Linked DNA regions of Homo sapiens. The protein of the gene in region 2 interacts with the protein of the main gene of each other region in a pairwise test. Each region holds a gene or a part of one and is shown on either strand. Other genes may lie near its edges. The genes, in order: TRPV2 and FGF1.

Region 1 (11,036 bases), on a different chromosome or scaffold from region 2:
CCCAAGGGTCCCTCTGACTTCTTGGCCTCCTTACCGTAACACATTTCAGGCTACAAGGAGGAGTCTGAGATCACCAGGAGGGGACCTTCAGTTTAAGCCACTGGGACAGGCAGATGGCCAGTCATGTGGCAGCCATGGCTTGTGAGATCCAGACCCCTGACCTCACCTGCTCAGGCTCAGTCCCTGGTGCTCTTTGGGCCTGCCCTTCCCACCAGACCTGGCTCCTGGCAGCTGTGCCCTGCACTGCAGGGGGGCCCCAGGGATTGCTGGACAGCAAGGCCCCCAGGAGACCCTCCCACCACTCACTCACCTGAAGCACCAGCGCTCATCGGGGCTGCCATCTGGCTTAGTGCCAACGGTCAGCATCACACCTGCCCGCTGCTTCTTCCTGCACCACCAATAGCCATTCTCCATCTCCAGGACAGAGATGGCTTTCTGGGGACAAAGGATGCATCAGACAGAACGTCCTGGGACCCTGCCTGGGGGCAAAGGCACACAAGGCAAGCGGAGCAGGGAAGTGCCGCGCAGCACTTCACAGTATAACGCGAAGTCAACTAAACACGCGGATTCGAATCTGGCTCCAACATCCGGTTACCTGTGTGGGGTTGGGCCCTCAGCCTCTCTGCATCTCAGTTTCCCCATTTGTAGACTGAGGACAAAGTGCCTCAGACAGCTGATGGGAAGTCTGTACCTTATGAGTACTGGACAGCTACTTGCTCTTACATCGTTCCAGGCTCCAGATTGCCACACCACCAGGAACAGAACTTCATTTGCTCACCCCACACATGTGCCTGCCCAGAGGCACACCAGTGAGTCAGGTGGGGCACAGAACCTTGCAGAGGAGGGCACCAAGGCTCAGAGGAGATAAGGGGCTTCCCCAAGATCAACAATGAATTGGCAGCAGGGTGGGGCATGGTGGCTCATGCCTGTAATGCCAGCACTTTGGGAGGCCGAGGCAGGTGTATCACCTGAGGTCAGGAGTTCAAGACCAGCTTGACCAACATGGTGAAACCTTATCTCTACTAAATACAAAAAATTAGTGGGGTGTGGTGGCACATGCCTGTAATCCTAGGTACTTGGGAGGCTGAGGCAGGAGAATCGCTTGAACCCAGGAGACAAAGGTGGCAGTGAGCCAAGATTGCACCATTGCACTCCAGCCCGGGCAACAAGAGCAAAACTCTTGACTCAAAAAAAAAAAAAAAAGAAACACTGGACAGCAATGATGATAAGAGTAGCTGGTAGCACATTGAGCACCTGCTTGGTGCTGGGCACTGTCCTAAGTACATCTATGAGCTTAAAGGAGGTGGGAGTAATCTCAGCACTTTGGGAGGCAAAGGTGGGAGGATCACCTGAGGCCGGGGCAACATAGTGAGACCTTCTTCTCTACAAAAAATAAAAATATTAGCCAAGTGTGGTGGCAGGTGCCTGTAACCCCAGCTACTCAGGAGGCTGAGGAAGGAGGATCACTTGAGCTCAGGAGGCCGAGGCTGCATTGAGCTGTGATCGTGCCACTGCACTCCAGCCTGGGTGACAGAGCAAGACCTTGTCTCCAGAAAAAAAAAAAAAAAAGGAAGAGGAAGACTGACAAGGTAGAGCTGCCCAACCCGGCATCTCCTGGCTAGGGAAGGCCCAGCTCCGCAGGGTCCGGAGCACTCCCCACCGCCTGAGTGTGGGGTGGGGTGGGGGCAGGGAGCCTCTCTGGTGGCACCTGCAGCTTCCAGATGCTCCAGCTGTCAGTGGCGACACTGTTGACGGTCTCGCTCATGAGGGCGATGAGCATGTTGAGCAGCAGGATGTAGGTGAGCAGCACGTAGGCCAGCAGCAGCAGCAGCACCATGCCGCGGAAGTGCAGCTGCTCCTGGAAGGCCAGCTCGCCCATGCCGATGGTGAATTTGAAGAGCTCCAAGGAGGCTTCCAGGATACCCCTGTACTGGGCCCCGTTGCCCTCGTCCTCCTGTCCCTCCATGGGCTGCACTGACTCTGTGGCATTGGGGCCTGTAGGAGCTTCGGGGCGCCAAGCCTCCTGGCTCAGGCTCACCAGGGCTATGGGATGAAGGGAGAGGGGTCCTTAGCCCAGGAGACCGGTGGGCAGCCTTGGGAGTGTACAGGGTGGACAAGGAACGTGGGGAAGGGGGAGGGGGCCGGAGGGAGCCTTTACCTACAGCGAAGCCGAAAAGGAAGACTAAGTAGATCAGAAGGAAGCGCAGCAGGTCCCGCAGGATGACCTGGAACACATGTGCCCAGGGGCCAGGGTGGGTAGCTGGGCCACCAGTCACGACCCCAGAACCCTGCCTCACCCACAGCAGCATGGTTCCCGTGTACACTGCACATACGCACACATACATATGCATATGTGGGCCTGTGGAGCCACACCGAGCAGAGGAGTCTTTTAAAAATATATCTCAGATCTGGCTGGGTGCGGTGGCTCATGCCTATAATCCTAGCACTTTGGGAGGCTGAGGCGGGCAGATTACCTGAGGTTGGGAGTTCAAGACCAGCCTGGCCAACATGGTGAAACCGCGTTTCTACTAAAAATACAAAAAATTAGCCAGGTGCAGTGGTGTGCCTGTGCTTGTAATCCCAGCTACTCAGGAGGCTGAGGCAGGAGAATCACTTGAACCCAGGAGGCAGAGGTTGTGGTGAGCCGAGATCACACCACTGCACTCCAGCCTGGGCTACAGAGTGAGACTTCGTCTCAAAAAAAAAAAAAAAAAAAATATGTATATATATATATATATATATATATATATATGTCTCAGATCACATTGTTTTCCTGCTTAAAACTTTCCAGTAGCTGGGCATGGTGGCACAAGCCTACAGTGCCAGCTACTCAGGAGGCTGAGACAGGAGGATTGCTTGAGCCCAGAATGTCAAGGCGGCAATGAGCTATGATCGTGTCACCGCACTCCAGCCTGGGTGACTGAATGAGTCCCATCTCAAAAAACAAAAAACAAAAAACAAAAAAAAAAAACCTTCCAGGGTCACAAAATAAAATATAGAACTACTGTATGACCCAGCAATTCCACTTCTGGGTATGTATATGCCCAAAAGAATTGAAAGCAGGGACTCTAACAGATACTTTTACACCCTTGTTCGTAGCAGCATTATTCACAATGGTCAAAAGGTGGAAGCAACAGGTGACTGGATCGACAGATGAATGGACGCACAAAATGTGGTGTATCTACACAATGGGATATTATTCAGCCTTACAAAGGAAGGAATTGGCTGGGCGTGATGGCTCAGCCTGCAATCCCAGCACTTTGGGAAGCCAAGGTGGGTGGATCACCTGAGGTCAGGAGTTCAAGACCATCCTGGCCAACGTGGCAAAACTCCGTCTCTACTAAAAATAAAAAAAATTTGCCGGATGTGGTGACACATGCCTGTAGTCCCAGCTACTCGGGAGGCTGAGGCAGGAGAATCGCTTGAACCTGGGTGGCGGAGGTTGCAGTGAGCCAAGATTGCATCACTGCACTCCAGCCTGGGCAACAGAGCAAGACTCCATCTCAAAAAAAAAAAAAAAAGGAAGGCATTTCTGACACATGCTACAACATGGCTGATCCTTGAGGACATTATACTGAGTAAAATAAGCCAGACATTAAAGGACAAATACTGTATGATTCCACTTCTACGATGTAGCTATGGTCATCAAATTCGTAGAAACAGAAATTAGAATGGTGGCTTCCAGGGACTGGGGGAAGGGAATGGGGAGTTGTTTAATGGGTGTTGAGTTTCAGTTTGGGATGACAAGAAAGTTCTGGAGTTGGATGGTGGTGATGGTTATACAACAGTGTGAATGTACTTAATGACACTTAGCTGTATACTTTAAAAAAAAAAGGTTAAAATGGGCCAGGCGCAGTAGCTCATGCCTGTAATCCCAGCACTTTGGGAGGCCAAGGCAGGCGGATCACCTGAGGTCAGGAGTTTGAGACCAGCCTGGCCAACGTGGTGAAAACCTGTCTCTACTAAAAATACAAAAATTAGCCGGGCATGGTGGTGGGTGCCTGCAACCCCAGCCATACGGGAGGCTGAGGCAGGAGAATCGCTTGAACCCAGGAGTAGGGGTTTGCAGTGAGCTGAGATGGTGCCATTGCACTCTAGCCTAGGTAACAAGAGTGAGACTCCATCTCAAAGAAAAAAAAAAAAGTTCCATGTTAGGTGTATTTTACTACAATTAAAAAAAAAAAAGCCTCTGGGGACCTCCAAATCCCTCCCCGTGGAAGGGGCCCCTGGCCCTTCCCTTCCTCCCAACCTCCTCACCTCCACCCTCCTGCCATCTCCCCAGCCACCTAGCCTCCTCACCCTGTCCCAAGCACCCCAAGCTCCTTCTGGCTCGTGGCAGCCACTGCTGTGCCCTCTGCTGAGAATATCTCCTCTTCACCCTGCTGTGGCTGAATCATTCTTTCAGGTCTCAACTTAAACATCCCCTCTTTAGAGAGGCTTCCCAGACCATCCCATCTAAAGGGTACTTGGTCCCAGCCATTCTGCATCACATTGTCCTGTGCTTTTTTTTCCTTCATAGAATTTAGCAGTGTGGAATGTTCTCAGTTGTTTTCTTAAGGTTTTCATTTCCTCCCACCAGAACATCAGCTTCAGGGGAGCAAGGACTTGTTCTGTTCTCTGCTATATTCCCAACACCTAGAACAGGGCCCGGCCCACAGTAGGCACTCCCTAAACATGCGCTGAATACATAAATGAATGCAGTTACATGCCCGCGCCCACACATCGCAGGACACAGACATGCAGATGAGCTTATGCACATATTCTTTGCTCCTTGCTTGTGGAAGGATGCACATGCTCCCGTGTGGACACCTGCAAACACACATATGTACGTTTGTTTGCGTGTGCATGCAGAGCCCTGAGAGAGGTATGTGCAGGCCTGTACTTAAGCTTCCATCCAGCAAGCATCTGAGTGCTGGCGCACAGGCAGATGTACACATGCCCTCCTCTGCCTAGGATAGCTGTGGAGGAAGGCTCTTCTTGCCTGATGAGGCCAAAAGAGTCCCGGTGGGCCACCCCCTTCTCTCACCTTCTGGATCATGACACTGTAGATGCCTGTGTGCTGGAAGCCACGTGTATAGTAAAGCAGGTTCAGCCAGCCCAGCACCAGCGCAGACACAAGCAGGGGCAGGTACCACTCGATGGCCAGGAAACACAGCACCTGGGACACCACTGTGAGCAGGGCCTGGAACAGGCTGTGTGGGAGCAGAATCCAGGTGGGCTTGCGGGCCACTTGGCTCCCTGAGCCCCCACTGGCCTATGCTGACCAAGGTCCTGACCTCCATCTTAGGCAAGACATTTAACCTCTGTGGGCCTCAGTTCCCTCCCACTGTAAAATGGGCATAATAATAATGATGCCTGACTCATAGAGTGTTTTCAAGGACTAAGTGAAACAGGTATGTGCCGAGGCCTAGTAAATGTCACTATCACCATCTACAGTGATGGGAGCACAAGGGGCCCCAGGCTGGACGGCAGCCCAGACTCCTGGGACTGGCCTGTACACAGATCCCGACTTCCTGGGCCCCGTGTCCTCGCCTCTAAAGCCAACCTGGTGCCTTCTGCCACAACTGCCCCTTCCAGACCTCAGAGACAGTTGAGAGAAGGAGGAGTGAGAACCCACGTACAAGAGGATTTCAAAGTAGCTGTCTATGAACGAGATCCAGATGAACACGTGGCGCCGCCAGAAGTACCACAGCTGCGGAGGAAGGGAGGACAGAGGGCTGTGAAACCTGCTCTCCCGCATGCCCCCTGCTGGCCTGGCTGAGTGGGAGCCTGCCACCCAGGCTAGAGCTAAGTCAGCAGCTTTGGTTTTGGGGGACTCATGAATACTTCTGATAGCTGAGATAGCTTGGGACTTTCTTTCCAGAAAGAGCAGCCACCTAGGCAAGGCCGGGGGGTGCAGGTGAAGAGCCTGTGCACTGCATGCAGGAAGGGGAAGAGCACCTTTCCCTTCCCTTCTCCCTGGCCTCACAGGGAGCACCCATACCCCAGCCAACCTGCGTTTGGTGCCCAAGTTCTGCCCACTCTGCGGAGGTCCCAATGTCTTGGTGTCCAGCCTGTGTCCTGCAGGCTTACAGCATTTCCCACTGAAGAGGCCCTACTGGGGGAAATAGCCTGAACCCCACCTACCTCTGGTCTCTGTGCTCCCCAAGAGGGGAGCTTCCCAGCCGAGGGGCCTGGCTAGGGGCAGGCGCTTCCAGCTCCATTCCTGGGGGAGCAGAGTCTGTACTGCCAAGGAATCAGAGAAGCTATCTGCTACCCCAAGGAACCCCAAAAGCACAGCAGAGGGGTTCCTGGGGACTCAGAAGGCAAGGCCAGAACCTCTGGCCCTCAGCTTCAGTGAGGCTGGTTGCTCTGGGTGGGACTGGGTATTGTCAGTGAGGGGATGCAGCTAACTTTCTCTAAGCCCCCTGAAGCAGAATTCTAGGTTTGCTTCTTGGTAGGAGAAGGGGAGGGGCACTCACCTGGCCCACGAGGAGGTAGATCCCCCCTAGCAGGATAAGGATGTGGCCCGTCAGCAGCATGGAGTTTCCAACCTCCGCTTTCAGGTGAGGGGCGGCCTGCTGAAGACACACTCAGATGAGACCTAGGGCCTTGGGTCCTCTCTCGAACAGCTCACCCTTCAGAGCTGAAGCTGAGGGCCTACTCTGAGCCTGAGCTGTGGAGAGGCTCCTCAGAACGGCATGGGAACATGGGCTCCAGGGAAGGACCCCTGGATCCTGAGAGGCACATTGTGTAGCATTTCAGTGTAGGGTCTGAAGCCAGACTCCCTGGATTCAGATTCCCTCTCCACACCACTTCCATTCTGTGTGACCCTGGGCAAGTTACTTAACCTCTCTGTGCCTCCCTTCCCTCTACTATAAACTGGGGGTGATTATAATTCACCATCTCAAGGGTTTTGGGGCACATTAATTAGTCAACACATGTCCATCACCTAGAATCCTTTTTCACATACAGTGAGCACTCAGCAAATCTTCACTGTATCACCGTTAGTACTGCAGTGCTGGCTCCCATAAGCTTGGGAATGTCACTCCAGCAGCCCATGCCTCAGCACTATTACTGCCCCATCTTCCCCCAGGGTTGTTTCAAGCAGGCCTCCCCCAAGATGTGCCCCCCCAAACCTCACGCCCTTGCCTTCTTCAGGGTAGGCTGATGGTAGGCAACAGCGGTGAAGATGAACATGTAGATCAGATTACACAGGAAGTTTAAGAAGAACTTGGGGATGAGCAGATCCCATTTCGCCTGCAGCAGTTTGTTCAGGGGCTCCAAAACGACCATTCGGTGTCGGTGCTGGGGTGGGGAGGGGAGAGCCATGGGTACACTCAACAAGTGCAAATAGGCTGCCCACTCCATGTCAAGATCAAAGCAAGGGCCCAGGAAATGAGGAGAGAGGACAGGGAGCAGGCTTCCACACCCCAGGAGCCCCAAAGGACCTCACGCCAACCCTCCCAGCTACAGTGTGACTAAGGGGCTTGCCCTCCAAATGAGATGCTGGTTAACAGAGAGGACCCGGATGGTTGCCACGAGGCCCTTGGCATGATCCCCGTCTTGGATGGGACTAGAGTATGGATTGAGTATGGGCCCGGTGGCCATGGTCAGGGTCGTGCCTGCTGGGACATGCAGCCACACCCCCACTGGCACAGGAATGGGGCAGATATGGTCCAGCAGGCAGCCCCAATTTGTGGACCTTGCTGGAAACTCTGCTGGGTCCTCTGCGTGCACCCATGCTCCTGTGGGCTCACCGGGCTCTTGCAATGAAAGGCAATGATCTCCAGCACTGAGTTCTCCTCACAGCTGTCCACAGAAGCCAGGTCATACAGCGACACCCGGACAGGCCCATAGCACCACTCGGTGAACTTTCGGGAAAGGTGGCTCAGTCCTGAAAACTCCCGCTGCAGGATGTGCCTGAAAATCTGCAGGGTGGCCATATGAGCTTGCATTCATGGTCCCTTCCTGGCACTGATCCTGGGCCAAGGCTGGGAAACACCCAGGACTCAGCAGCTGCCCACGGTCTGCAGAGCTGCAGCTGACACGTGCACGTACCCCCATACACGCAGGTCCTTGTTTGTCTAAACTCTTAAACACACACACGCACCCAGCCACATCTGCCCCAGCCTGCCAGCCAGCCTGGCTCTTCCTTCCCCTCCCCTGCCCTGTGGCCTTCCTTGAACTCCTCAAATGGCAGATTGATCCCTAGCCCTGGGGTCCTTGAGGCCCCTGAGATCAGAGTCTACTAGCTGTATCTGTGTGTGCACTTTCGCGGTCAGAATCTAGAATTTTCAACAGACTAGAAAGTGGTCCCTAATCCAAACAGGTTAGGAAGCAGTCTGGTTTCACGCGTGAGGAATGGGAAAGGAGGAACAGATCAGGACACTGCTTTCATAGGCCACACAGCAGTGCCTCTAGACAAGAAAGTGAGGTTCACACACCCCAGGGAGCACTCCAAAAAACTTGGGAGGGCAGCGAAAAAGGGTTAAAACTTCTATTTATGTTTATCGTTTCCTTAATCTTTCAAAAATCTCCACTGTAAGCCCATGAGGCCAGCCCTGGTGAGCTATTGGCAAAAGCTATTTGGAACAGGCCATTGGTAAGCTATCTGGAACAAAGTGGGGGCTGCCTCATGTTTACTCTTCCTACCAGAATAACTTCCAGCTAGTCAAAGCTCTAGGCATTAAAAATGCAGCTGCAGGCTGGGCGTTTCGGCTCATGCCTGTAATCTCAGCACTTTGGGAGGCTGAGGCAGGTGGATCACCAGAGGTCGGGAGTTTGAGACCAGCCTGACCAACATGGAGAAACCCCGTCTCTACTAAAAATACAAAATTAGCCGGGCGTGGTGGCACATGCCTGTAATCCCAGCTACTCGGGAGGCTGAGGCAAGAGAATCGCTTGAACTCCGGAGGCGGAGGTTGCAGTTAGCCGAGATCGCGCCATTGTACTCCAGCCTGGGCAACAAGAGCGAAACTCCATCTCAAAAAAAAAAAAAAAAAAATGCAGCTGCAAAAGTTTGGAAGAAAATATGGGTATGAAGATTATATATATACTATATATAATTATAATGTATAATATAATGTATAATAGTTATAACATATATTATGTACATATAATATGTATTATATATATAAAATCTTGTAGCAGGAATTAGACAATAGCAAAACCATGGAACCTTAAAGGAAAAGATAGTCACACTTGCAGATTATAAAAATTTTTAAATCCTGTATAGCAAAAAAAACATAAAATTCAAAAGACAAATGATGAACTAGGAGAAATTTTACAAGTGCTATGGTAGACAAAATACTAAATTCATTATAAAGTTATCAATAAATATGCAGAAACAGAATAGCAAAATAGGCAAAAGATATAAAAAGGCTATCTCTTAATAAAGAAACACAAACGACTTTTAAAAATTCCCAATGTTTGGCCGGGTGCCATGGCTCACACCTGTAATCCCAGCACTTTGGGAGGCCGAGGTGGGCAGATCACCTGAGGTCAGGAGTTCAAGACCAGCCTGGCCAACATGGTGAAACCCCATCTCTACTAAAAATACAAAAAATTAGCTGGGTGCAGTGGCGCGTGCCTGTAATCCCAGCACTTTGGGAGGCCGAAGCGGGTGGATCACGAGGTCAGGAGTTCAAGACCAGCCTGACCAACATGGTGAAACCCCTCTTTACTGAAAATACAAAAAAAAAATTAGCCAGGCATGGTGGTGGGTGCCTGTAATCCCAGCTACTCAGGGGGCTGAGGCAGGAGAATTGCTTGAACCTGGGAGGCAGAGGTTGCAGTGAGCCGAGATCATGTCACTGCACTCCAGCCTGGGTGACAGAGCGAGGGTCCGTCTCAAAAAAAAAAAAAACAAAATTAGCTGGGTGTGGTGGCACATGCCTGTAATCCCAGCTACTTGGGAGGCTGAGGCAGGAGAATCGCTTGAACCTGGGAAGCAGAGGTTGCGGTGAGCCGAGGTCGCACCATTGCACTCCAGCCTGGGCAACAAGAGCGAAACACCGTCTCAAAAAAAAAAAATCTCAATGTTTTATAATGTAATATATTCAGTAGTTCATATGCAATTTATAAATAAACAGAAATATATCAGAGGTACATACTGAAAATTTTCTTACTAACAGGAGTGTTCCATTGAAAAGCAGAGAAGCCACTGCTCTTCACCACCCCCTGGGTTCTTTCTGCAGAAATTTTGGGATGAGACCTACTGCTTCCTGGAGAGGGGAAGTGGGAAGGGGACAGCCGCTCACCTCGATCTTGCCCTCCTTGGCGGCCAGCTTCAGAGGCGTGAGATCCTGCAGGTTGCGGATGTCCTCAAGCTGCACGGTAGGGCAGAGGCGGGCCCCAGCTTGGAGGAGCCCATCATACATGCTGGTCACCAGTGCAATGTTCTCAGCTGAGTTGTCCGAGATCATCACTAGGGCATGCAGGACTGTGTTGCCCTGGGAGTCAGTGGCCTGCAGGCTGGCGGGCTGGTGTGGGTTCTCCAGGAGGTAGCTTACCACATCCCACTGCTTGGTGCAAGCGGCCAAAGAGAGGGGTAGCTCACCTGCAGGCCAAGAGAGCAGCTTGGGCCCCAGGCCTCCTGCTTTCCATCTGCCTACTCCTCATGCTCCTTGGACAAAAGGCCAGCCCTCCTTGAAACAGGTCAGGCTTCTTTACCACTGAAGGGAGCAGAACAGGGGCCAGCCAACCTGCTGCCTTTTGCTGTCTTCTTTGCCAGAGCCCAGGCATGCTGCCTCTTTATTCAGGCTCTGCCTGGCCAAGTCACATGCCAGTGCTAGCAGCCCCTATTTCTTTCCCTGGGTCTGGGTCTGGGTGCATGCCCGTCTTCTGGCCAGACGAGGATGAAACATCTCTTATGACAAATTAATGCTGGATGTGGTGGCACACACTTGTAGCCCCAGCTCGAGAAGCTAAGGCAGGAGGATTGTTAGAACCCAGGAGTTTGAGGCTGGCCTGGACAAAAGACAAACTGCTTTTGCAGGCAGCCTAGTGGTTAGAAGCAGGGCATCGGGGTCAGAAAAACCTAGGTTTAACTGCCA
Region 2 (11,036 bases):
CAAACAGAAAGAATGCATAATGGCAAGAACGTTAATTGTCCAGGGCTGCTCCAGGTAGAAAGGGGCAGAGTAGGCTTGAACTCGAGCCTGCTGACTCTTCAGTGGAATATCCAGTTCCAGTACTGACAGGTACACGGATGGGCTTCTGGCCACCCACCCCACTTACTCTGATCTCTGTCCTCTTGGTCCTTGTTCTTAGTTCCAGAGTAAGCAAATAATAGGCCCACACAACAACTCCGAGTGTTGGCAGAGAGATGCTGAATCTAAGCCTGCATCTAGCCCCTTGACTTTCCTGGGTGGCAGTACTGTTAAAAAGAGGAGTCTGGAAGGTCCTTCAATACGACCCTGTGTTACCATATGCTAGGCTGATTATATGGAAAGCTTGATGATGATAACTGCAATATGAACCAACACGTGCTGTGCTGTTCCTCTGTGCCAGCCACTGTGCCAAGAACTCTCACTATATTATCTCATTTAACCCTCCCAAGAAACCTGTGAGGCAAGGAATATTAGTATTCTTTTTGTACAAATGAGAAAAGTGAGGGTGAAAGGTGCAGTTGCCCAAGTTCACTTGGAAAATAATCTGGCATTCCTTGAATGCAGAAATCCTCACCTGCACTCCCAGGGCTACGTTGTGCTGCTTTCTAGGGGCTCCTGACATCTTAAGTCAGGCGGCCAAATCCACTGTGGACTCCAGAAGTTGTGCCAGTGTTACACACCCAGAGTGCAGTCTGTTGTGCTAATGATGGAATGGCAACAGTTAAGCCATTTTCCATTGCTACAGAAATTCCAGTATTGGAGCCTTTTTTTACTCCAGAAGTCAAGGTTTCCAGAAGAGCTAGCTTAACCCCAAGGAACATATCATGAAGTTTGTCTTTCCTCTTGGGTTCTGAGGACCGGAGAGCATTCCCTACTTTTTCAGAAAATTGGTTAAGACGTATTAGGAACACTTAAAACCCAGAGGAATTAAAGCTTGTTCGTGTTGTGTGGGGCAGATCACGTGAGTTGTGTATCATGCCTGACACAATGGACTACAATCTAAGTTTGCTAATTTGCAGTGAATATTGCTTATGTATGCTATTTAACAAACTAGAGTCTTTTTTTTTTGCCTCATTCTGACACCTGTTTTTCACTGAGTATAAGACATTCAGCAAGCCCATTTGAAGATAAGCCATCAAAACAAAGCCCAAAAGAGCTAATTCTGCAGCTGCAAGCCCCAGCCTCAGCCTTCCTGCTCCTCATCTCCAGGGTCTGTGCAGTGGGTGGGGAGGAAGGAACAACGTCACCTCGTGTAAACGCCAGCATCCATCCCCATTACCTGTGCATCTGAGGGTACAGCGTGAGCACCAGCGAAGTGGTCATTTGTTCTTAGAGCCTGCAACCTCTGGTGCATGGTCCATGAATAATTAAGACCACCTGATGTATAAACCATCATGTCAAAGTGAGTGTTTTGCATTGCATTTTGAAGCCAGTCCTACAGAAACTTCCTTCCTGCCTGTCTTCTTCTATGTCTCCTGATTTTCCTTCTCTTGATTTGTGGCAAGTTTGACTCTTGAGATTGCTGACCCTCTAAGCAGGGACTGGATCTGACTTTAGGCTTCTTTGTAACCTCTGATGCTGCAGTGGGACTCAGGGAATCTCAGATAACATCACGATAGGACCTGGACACCTAATATCAAACATACACACCAATGCCAGAAGTACCAAAGCAGAAGGAAGAGATTTTTTTATACTTAGATAGTCAAGAAGATTCTTTTCTCTAGAGTCATACCTTCATTTGTCAACACCTCTGAGAACCGGGCTGCCAGGAAGTCCTGGAAGAGATATTCAGCATTTGGCGCTAGTCGCTCCTACTCTCCAGTTTCTATAAGGTCTGGAGAATGACTTTACCACTGCTGGTTACCACAGCCACATCTGCGTGATACGCAGAGGGAAAGCTGCATAATTTATGATGTGTAAGACTACGATTATGAACTGGGATTTCACAAATCAAGCCCAGTGGAAACATAACCAGGAGAGTCAGTTGACTTGAAACGGAGCCCACATCTCTGTGCAGGATTTACCACCATGCCTGTCTGGTTCATCCCATCATGAAGCGTGCAGGCCCCTGACTAGCCTTCGGGGCCAGATCTTTCACTAGTTACAGAAACCTGGGAAAACATACAGCAATTGAGCACCGGCAGCCCGTTCTGTTGGGTCAGCAGAGAGTGCTTTAAAAAACTTGAAATAGGACACGTTTGGGTAAGTGGTGGCCCCCACAAGTCCCTATTTTCTAAACCCAGACATTTTACGCATTTATGTGACTCCACCTCTGAATGTGTCATGCCTGAATAGAACCTTGGAGAAGCAAGTACCTGTACTTAAATGTGCACCTTCCTCCCACCTTGACTACAGAAGATGTCAGAAAGGGAAGGGGGGTGCCATAGAGATGGGCTTACTGTGCTGGTCGCTCCTGTCCCTTGTCCCATCCACTGTGCCATCCGGAAGGATCCTCAGGAAGTGGCCCCCGTTGCTACAGTAGAGGAGTTTGGGCTTCTTGTAATTCCCTGGAGGCAGATTAAACTTCTCGGTCAGGGCTGTGAAGGTGGTGATTTCCCCTTCAGCCATGGCTCAGCAGCTGCTGCTTGTGGCGCTTTCAAGACTGTAAGAAATTGAACAAACCTGTAGTCGGTTCTTCCAGCAAAGGCACAAAATGCACTTTGAAGAGAGGAAGGACAGCTCCAGGGCACAGGGTTCCCGGGTAGTGAGTAAGCACAGCCTGCCCAGGTGATGCCCGCAGTCCGCGGGCCTGTGAGGTGGCTGGTGGTTAAGGAAGGATGGTCCCAGGCCTGGGAGGGGTTTCCAGGGCATTTTTCTCTCTTCCCAATTGGACACAGCTTTGGACCAAACTGCATTTTTTAGAACTTCAAATTTAATCATCTGACCATGGGGAAAAGAATCATGTTTTGGTCCCTCCTTCTGGTCCACACACATCCTCAAATTAAACACCAAAGTTGCACTAAAATAACACCTAGGGTCTGGCTGAAACCCACAAAAGCTGAGAGGCCAGGACCAAGGTTCTGCCCTCCACCCTCACGTTGCGTTGGTGAGGTACCGCGAAGCAGATAGCACAGATGGCCTGGACGTTCGGGACCTGCAGCCAAAGGCACAGGAGGCCTTTCAGGGACACAACAGGGAAAGTAAAGGGTTAGTATGTTAAGGGAAGCTTCTGGATTTGCTGGGGGAAACAGAACTGGAACCAGGGAAAAAGGCACAGAGTGGGAGTAAGTGGGGTTTTTAAAGGGCAAATACCATATCAAAGGAAATGTTATGAGACAGATCATTATGAAGGCTATGCCTGGTTCCTGCCCATTCTGCAGCTTTCCACATAGCTTCATGTGGCACAGAGAAGGTGGGTCTGTCCCTTGCACGCAGGCTGTTTTCATCCTAGCTATTTTCTAATGTGAGATAGAACACAGAAACCACCATATTATATATAATATACCTTTAACATTATATGTAGCCACTACATACAAACTTATATTATTAATGTGAAAATGCATCACTTACACCTCAAAGGATTAAAAAACAAAACCAATGAGCATTAGAATTGGTTAAAACATATACTTGCCCCACCATTTAGGAGAAGGAAGTGCTGGTGACTCTAAAAACTGAAAAGAAAGAGGCCAAAAAGAGACCAGGAAACTAACGTGTGAACTGCACTTTTTTTTTTTTCTCCTGAGACGGAGTCTCTGTAGCCCAGGATGGAGTGCAGTAGCACGATCTCAGCTCACTGCAACCTTGGCCTCCCGGGTCCCAGTTCAAGCAATTCTCCTGCCTTAGCCTCCCAAGTAGCTGAGATTACAGGAATGCGCCACCACACCAGGCTAATTTTTATATTTTTAGTAGAGATGGGGTTTCACCATGTTGGCCAGGCTGGTCTTGAACTCATGACCTCGTGATCCGCCTGCCTCGGCCTCCCAAAGTGCTGGGATTACAGGCGTAAGCCACCGCGCCCGGCCTGGGAGCTGTACTTTGTAAGTGTGAGTAGTGAATGTGATCATCAATACATATTGATTATCAAGTGGTCTTAGAATAAAAATCATCACCCTCATCATTAACGTATTTTGGGCTACAGGTTATCTCAAGTAATCTCACCATAATCCCTTGAAGTGGACACTAATATTATCATCATTTTTAATAAAACCAAAGCTTACAGATGTTCAGTGACCTGCCCAAGGGCAACAGCTAGTAAGCGATGGAGCTGAATCGCAAAAGGAGTCTGGGAACAGAAAGCCCCAATTTGCCCTTGATCACCATGAAAAGGTTTAGTGACTTTATCCACACTAGTCTTTTTATGAGGAGTGGGGTTTTTACCCATTGCCTGACATGTACATCTGCCACCATTAACTTGTCATTCATATATTTATTTGTGACCCAAAGGTTGGCTAGTCTCCACCAACAGCCTCTCCTTTTGCCCCCATGCCATCTGTGAAACAGGACTCCATGCATCTCCACCTTCTCCAGGAGAAGCCCACCCCAGCAGCTTCGTGAGCATCATGGAAGACCAGCAGCTACCCTGCCTTCCCTGCACTAACCATCCATCAGTGCCTGTAGCAGCTGTGCGGAGCTGCTCTCATAGGAGATGGTTCCATCATAAATCAAGACACCAATTACAATAATTTGTCCTTATGACTTTAAAATGAGGGCTCATGTTGGAAGCCTCCATCTGTTTTCTCTGCTCCTGGCATTTTAATGTTTCTGGTACATTTTTCCCACTCTGCCACCACATGGGCCAGCCATTGTCCCTGGTTTCAACTAGTGTTGGAGGTGCCTCCAAGAATCCCAAAGAGAATTTCGCAAATACCATATAAACTATATTTAAAGTCAGATCATCCCAAATGTCCCCTCCATCCCATATGGTGAAACTTCGATTAATTCTTTTCACATAATACAGCAACAGACAGAAAATAAATATAATACCACATATATGTAATTTTATTTATGTCAATTTCACAGAGAGGATTGCAGAGTTTACCTTGCATAGTACAATCTCTCTCCATCCTCACTGTCTCTTCCAAACCTTACTTTCTTATCCATAAGCCTCTAAGTCCTTCTGTGTCCACCTCTGGCTCTCTTACTCTCTGTCCCTCTGTCTCTTCCTGTCTCTCCACTCACTCCTCTCTCCACCCAGCCTCTCACTCTAACTCCTCACTCCACTCCCTTCTGGATCCACTTCTAATGTAAAGCAATTTAGCTCTTCCCAGTGTGGATATCTTTATCCCTCACCTCTCTATTAGCACTCAACCATCACCAGATTCCCCTTCCTTAAAATACAACTAAGAGGTAATGATTTTTTTCTTTCATTTATTTTTTCCAAGCACTTCCTAAGTTATGTACTTCATTTGGTACAGGAGACAATAATTATATACCAGTGGTTGCCACTTAACTGCACAAATAGTCATTTGTATTGTCAATCTTAGGTGGGCCGAATTTTGTTTCTCCTTGTCTCTGGACTTCCTCCAGTGTAGGTCCCATTTGCCTCTGATTGTGGGGCAATTTCATTTTAAGAATGGCCTTTCAGGCCAGGTGTGGTGGCTCATGCCTGCAATCCTAGCACTTTGGGAGGCCGAGGTGGGTGGATCACCTGAGGTCAAGCGTTCAAGACCAGTCTGGCCAACATGGCAAAAACCCATCTCTACTAAAAATACAAAAATTAGCCAGGTCTGGTGGTGCATGCCTGTAGTCCCAGCTACTCGGGAGGCTGAGGCAGGAGAATGGCATGAACCTGGGAGACGACAGTTGCAGTGAGCCAAGATTGCGCCGTTGCACCCCAGCCTGGGCGACAGAGCGAGACTCTGTCTCAAAAAAAAAAAGAATGGCTTTTCTTCTAGATTCTAGACCATGTGTGTATGAGCCATGCAGCCCAGACTTCATCACTGTGGAGTTTTCACTGGCTAAATAACCTCAGCCAGAGCCCAGCAGGTCCTCAGGGGCCCCTCCCTCCTGACCACAGTGTACCTGCAGTCATACAAGGCCACAACTCTGCTCTCTGCCTGATCCCCTCAGTGAGAGGGAGCATCATGAGGGTGCCTATACTGATGTCAGATGGCTCCCCAAACCCTTCAGATCCACAACTGAAAACCTGAAGGAGACATGTAGGCTTCTGAAAATAAGCCTGGAGTCAACATGAAACTGACAGACCATGGTAACTGAGATTGATGACTCAGCTGAAACATATAAAAAATGAAATCCCTTTTTGTTGCTAAAGGAAACCCCAGGGGCATGAAAAGCCCTTATTTTAAACTTTATTTGTAATTTACCTATAGTTTGAGCGGTAGTTGGTCCAAAGTTCCTTGCCAATCCACTATTTGTTAAAGGGTAGAAATAAAGGAAGTATATGGCGTGATAAAACCATAAGGCAGCAACGTTAGCAGGTCCTTGGAGATTTACACAAATTGCTTTAATAAATGAATCCATTAACTAAGTGAAATCAGGCATTAAGTGTAAGGAAATTTATAAGCTCTGCTTCTTGTTACTATTTTCTTTTTAGTGGCTGTCAGAGGAGGGGATTGTCTGTGTTGTGCTGGGAAATGGAGAAGATCAAGCCCAGCGAACTCCGTGTCACCATTGTGCACGAAGCCTAGCCCTTTGAGATTTGGGGTACGGGTGAGATTTTAGGAAATCCAGATGATTTTTTTGATTTATCAGTGACACCCAGGTTAGAGGAACACCAAGCCTATTGGAACATCTGTGTTAAGGCTGACATACTTTGTCAGCTGTGGCCTCTGGAAGGGAACCTGAACTCTGACACATGAACAGGATGTGGATAGTAAGCAACCACTTTGGCTCTGGGAACCCGGGCGAGTCATTCACTCCTTCTGAGATGTTTCCTCTAATAATTCTCATCCTGCCTCTCACACAGTTGTCTAAAGGATTAAATGGGTACAATATTGATACAGCGCTTGAAAAATTGGACCTGACCTATAGGAGATAATAGTAACTGGTTATGTTGAACTCGTTGGAGCCTGGTGTGATCTAAGTCAGCTGTGATTAAATGCTTAATTTAAAATAATTTTTTAATTGGTTTGAAAATAGAAGTTTTTCATTCCCATATTTGGCAGAAATTAGCTAAGCTCCTCCCCCTGTGCTGTAAGCCACAAACATAGCAGAGAAGATGAAAGGCACAAAGGTAAGCCATGGTTATGTAAGAAAAAATCCTGGTCTGCATTTCAGACTCAGTTCTCAGCTTATCAACAGTTAATATAGTGACAGTTACTATATAGTTATTACAGTTATTTGCGAGGCCCATTATATCTAGGAGACATTTGTGCCCAGCTTGGCCCTGGAAACTAAGCTGGAAGGAAAGACTGTGATGTGTTAAGAATCAAAGGAAGGCAAACACTGACATTTATTTTTTAGTTGTTTTGTTTTTTTTTTTTTTTTTTTTTTTGAGACGGAGTCCCGCTCTTTAGCCCAGGCCGGATTGCAGTGGCACAATCTCGGCTCACTGCAAGCTCCGCCTCCCAGGTTCACGCCATTCTCCTGCCTCAGCCTCCTGAGTAGCTGGGACTACAGGCGCCTGCCACCGCGCCCGGCTAATTTTTTGTATTTTTAGTAGAGACGGGGTTTCACCGTGTTAGCCAAGATGGTCTCGATCTCCTGACCTCGTGATCCACCCGCCTCAGCCTCCCAAAGTGCTGGGATTACAGGCGTGAGCCACCACGCCCAGCCTTTAGTTTTGTTTTTAATCCCTGTCACTGTGTAAGCAATGTGGAATACCCATGAAGGAGGATATTTTGCAGAGTATATAAAGCCACTGAAGGTAGATGTGTAGACAGACACCTGCTAAGGTGATAATTGGATGTATCCTCAAACCCAGCATATACAAAACAGGCCTTGGCTTTGGTTCCAAATATGCTCTAAGTCCTTGCTGCCTGTGGCTATGAATGGCATCACCCAAAATCTTAATTCTTCCTTAGAGATATTAACTAAATTTTGTTAAGTCAAATATACATGTTAAATGTTAAAGGTAACTACTAAAAGAAAAGAAATAGAATGTATTTAGTCCAAGCGGCAACTGGTAGGCGTAAGGGGGATAAGGTGGAATAAATAAAACTGTGCTTATCTTCGTGACCAGCCTGACGAACATGGAGAAACCCCGTCTCTACTAAAAATACAAAATTAGCCGGGCATGGTGGCGCATGCCTGTAATCCCAGCTACTCAGGAGGCTGAGGCAGGAGAATCGCTTGAACCCGGGAGGCGGAGGTTGTGATGAGCTGAGATTGTGGCATTGCACTCCAGCCTGAGCAACAACAGCGAAACTCCGTCTCAAGAAAAACCAAAAAACGAAAAAAAAACAAAACCCTGTGCTATTCCAAAATAATCTAGAAAAAGAAAAAAAGAAAATAAAGTAAAAAAATTGCTCAGAATTAGGTGGCCAAAATAAATCCAAATATATGTATAATCACAATAAATGTAAATGTGCTAAATTTACTAGCTACTGTTTTTTTTTTAACTCCATCTGCACTCTGATTACAAGAGACACATTTAAAACATAATGACATAGAGAGGTTAAAAGCAAAAGAATGAAAAATAGATACCAGACAAATGTTAACAAAAAAATTGAAAACTCGGCTGGGCGCGGTGGCTCACGCCTGTAATCCCACCACTTTGGGAGGCCGAGGTGGGCGGATCACGAGGTAAGGAGATCGAGACCATCCTGGCTAACACAGTGAAACCCTGTCTCTACTAAAAATACAAAAAAATTAGCTGGGCATGGTGGTGGGCGCCTGTAGTCCCAGCTGCTGGGGAGGCTGAGGGAGGAAAATGGTGTGAACCCAGGAGGCGGAGCTTGCAGTGAGCTGAGATCGCGCCACTGCACTCCAGCCTGGGTGACAGAGCAAGACTCCGTCTCAAAAAAAAAAATTGAAAACTCGTGTGGCTATATTAATATCAGATAAAGTAGGTCTAAGGCAAAAAGAATGACTAAAGATAAAAGGGATTGCCACATAATAAGTGGATTAATTCAACAGAAAGATATACAAATTCCAAACATGTATATATCTAATGACATAGCCTCAAAATACATAAAACAAAAATTGACAAATATGTAAAGAGAAAGTGACAACTCCGCAATTATGGTGGGAGATTTTATAATACATTTCTGTCATAAATGATAGAGCAAACAGACACCAAATATTAATATGTAGAAGATTGAAATACACAACTAGTAAACTTAATTGATGAGTGTATAAAAGAACCTTGTACCCAACAATGAAGTGAACATCATTCTTATCAAAGATACATGGAGCATTTACGAAAATTGACCATGTACCAGGTCATAAGGCAAGACAACCCAAATAGAAAAATTTGTTTCATTCAGACTATTCTTTGGGCAGAATAGAAATCACTCCCACCTGTTCAGTTGGTGAAAATGCCCTTTCAGTTTTACCTTTTTAGTGTCTCCTAAAGCCATCCTCTTTTCTCCAGCCTCACTTCTGTTGCCTTAGCACAGACCCAGCACCTGTCTCACCTGGGCTGCTGCAGCAGGTCCCACCTTTCCAGCACTGCCTTCTTTCAATCCACTGTCAATTCTGCTGCTAGTGACCATTCTAACTCATCACTCCCCTGCTGTAGATCTTTGACTGGGTCATTGATTTCCCGTTGTCTTTCCAGATAAAACCCAGACTCCTGCCATGACCTGTGAGGCTCTCATCATTTGACCCCTTCTTAACCCTGTGACTTTTTCTCTTATTGGCCTCTTTTTATAGTCCCCCTACACCCTCATACTCACCCAGGTCTTAGCCCAAACATTGTGCTGCTGCCAACAGTATTTTTTCTCTCTCTCTTTTTCTCTTTCTCTTTCTCCCTCCCTCCCTTCCTCCCTCCTTCCCTCCTTTCCTCCACCCTTTCACCATGGTCTGACTAAGTCACACTCACCCTTCAAAAATTTAGCTGGATATTTCGGATATTTCCTCCTCGAGCAAGCCTTATTTGGACACATCCCCCAACCCTAACCTCCCTACTCTTTCTTAAAATTCACATATACCAGTTTAGGTGGGTTCATTCCCCTGTGCTCTCCCAACAGCAGACAGCATTTCCTTTACTTCACTGCAGCGCTGGGTGTAATTCCCATCTATATCCCCCTGCCTAAACTCTTCAGTGATTTCCCATTGCTCTGGGACAAAAACAAAAGCCTTGCTGTGGCCTGCAGGACTCTGGGAGGTTCAGCCCTTACTCCCCCTCTGCCTCATTTCCCATCACGTCTCCCTCCAAACTTGCCTTCCATTTTCTGATTCCCCCCACCCTAGGACCTTTGCCCATGCTGTTCCCTCTGGAGTGATGTTCCTCTCTTTCTCTCTACCCTACTCCCCTGGTTAACTCCTAATTTTTCTTCAAATTTTAGTTCAACTCTCAATTCCTCATGAAAGCCTTTCCTGTCTTCCCTGAACTGAGTCAGGTTCCTCCAGTTCTCATAGGACCATTTAACATTTCTTCATGGCTCTTACTACCAGTGTTTAATTACACATTCACTCTTGTGATTATTTAATGTCTCTTTTCATGACTGGACTGTCAGCTCCATGATAGTACAAACCAATTGGTCTTGCTCACAATGGTATCCCAGTGCCTAGCAAAATGCCTGACACCTGATGGGCATTTGATAAACATCTGTTGAATGGGCAAATGAATGTAATTTAACTACGTTTACTTCACTGACTCCTTCATTAGTCTCTGAGACCCTGGGACAGAAACTATGCCTTTTCTTTCTGTATCTAGCATTGAGCAAATACCTATGCATTATTAGTGTCCTGTGAATTCTTGTTGATTGAAGGGCCAGTCCTTTCTCAGGAGCCTCTTGTGGAACATCTTATCAGACTACCTAATTAGCAGGTGATGTCCTATAGGTATTGACAAAGAAGCTAAGCCAAGAGTCTAAATGTATTTTAATTGGGTTCAAATTAGGCCAGAATACCCTACCTTTGGTTAAAGGCAGGCTCAAACCCTGTCCTCATCTTGTAATAAATACTTCCTTATTTCTTTAAAGAAAATACTA

What was found.
Region 1: the proteins of FGF1 (region 2) and TRPV2 interact in a protein complementation assay, tested with the Homo sapiens proteins (one study listed by IntAct).

What each region holds. Positions count from the first base shown.
Region 1 is NC_000017.11:16,422,973-16,434,008, reverse strand, and holds part of TRPV2 (transient receptor potential cation channel subfamily V member 2), read right to left. Parts: intron 10,541-11,036; coding exon 10,242-10,540; intron 7,911-10,241; coding exon 7,740-7,910; intron 7,288-7,739; coding exon 7,132-7,287; coding exon of another isoform or gene 7,120-7,131; exon of another isoform or gene 7,119-7,119; intron 6,561-7,118; coding exon 6,462-6,560; intron 5,693-6,461; coding exon 5,622-5,692; intron 5,193-5,621; coding exon 5,027-5,192; intron 4,810-5,026; coding exon of another isoform or gene 4,750-4,809; exon of another isoform or gene 3,690-4,749; intron 2,226-3,689; coding exon 2,159-2,225; intron 2,044-2,158; coding exon 1,709-2,043; intron 436-1,708; coding exon 311-435; intron 1-310. UniProt on the Homo sapiens protein: Calcium-permeable, non-selective cation channel with an outward rectification. Seems to be regulated, at least in part, by IGF1, PDGF and neuropeptide head activator. May transduce physical stimuli in mast cells.
Region 2 is NC_000005.10:142,611,521-142,622,556, forward strand, and holds part of FGF1 (fibroblast growth factor 1 isoform 1 precursor), read right to left. Parts: intron 9,815-11,036; exon of another isoform or gene 9,777-9,814; intron 2,642-9,776; 5' UTR 2,608-2,641; coding exon 2,439-2,607; intron 1-2,438. UniProt on the Homo sapiens protein: Plays an important role in the regulation of cell survival, cell division, angiogenesis, cell differentiation and cell migration. Functions as a potent mitogen in vitro. Acts as a ligand for FGFR1 and integrins.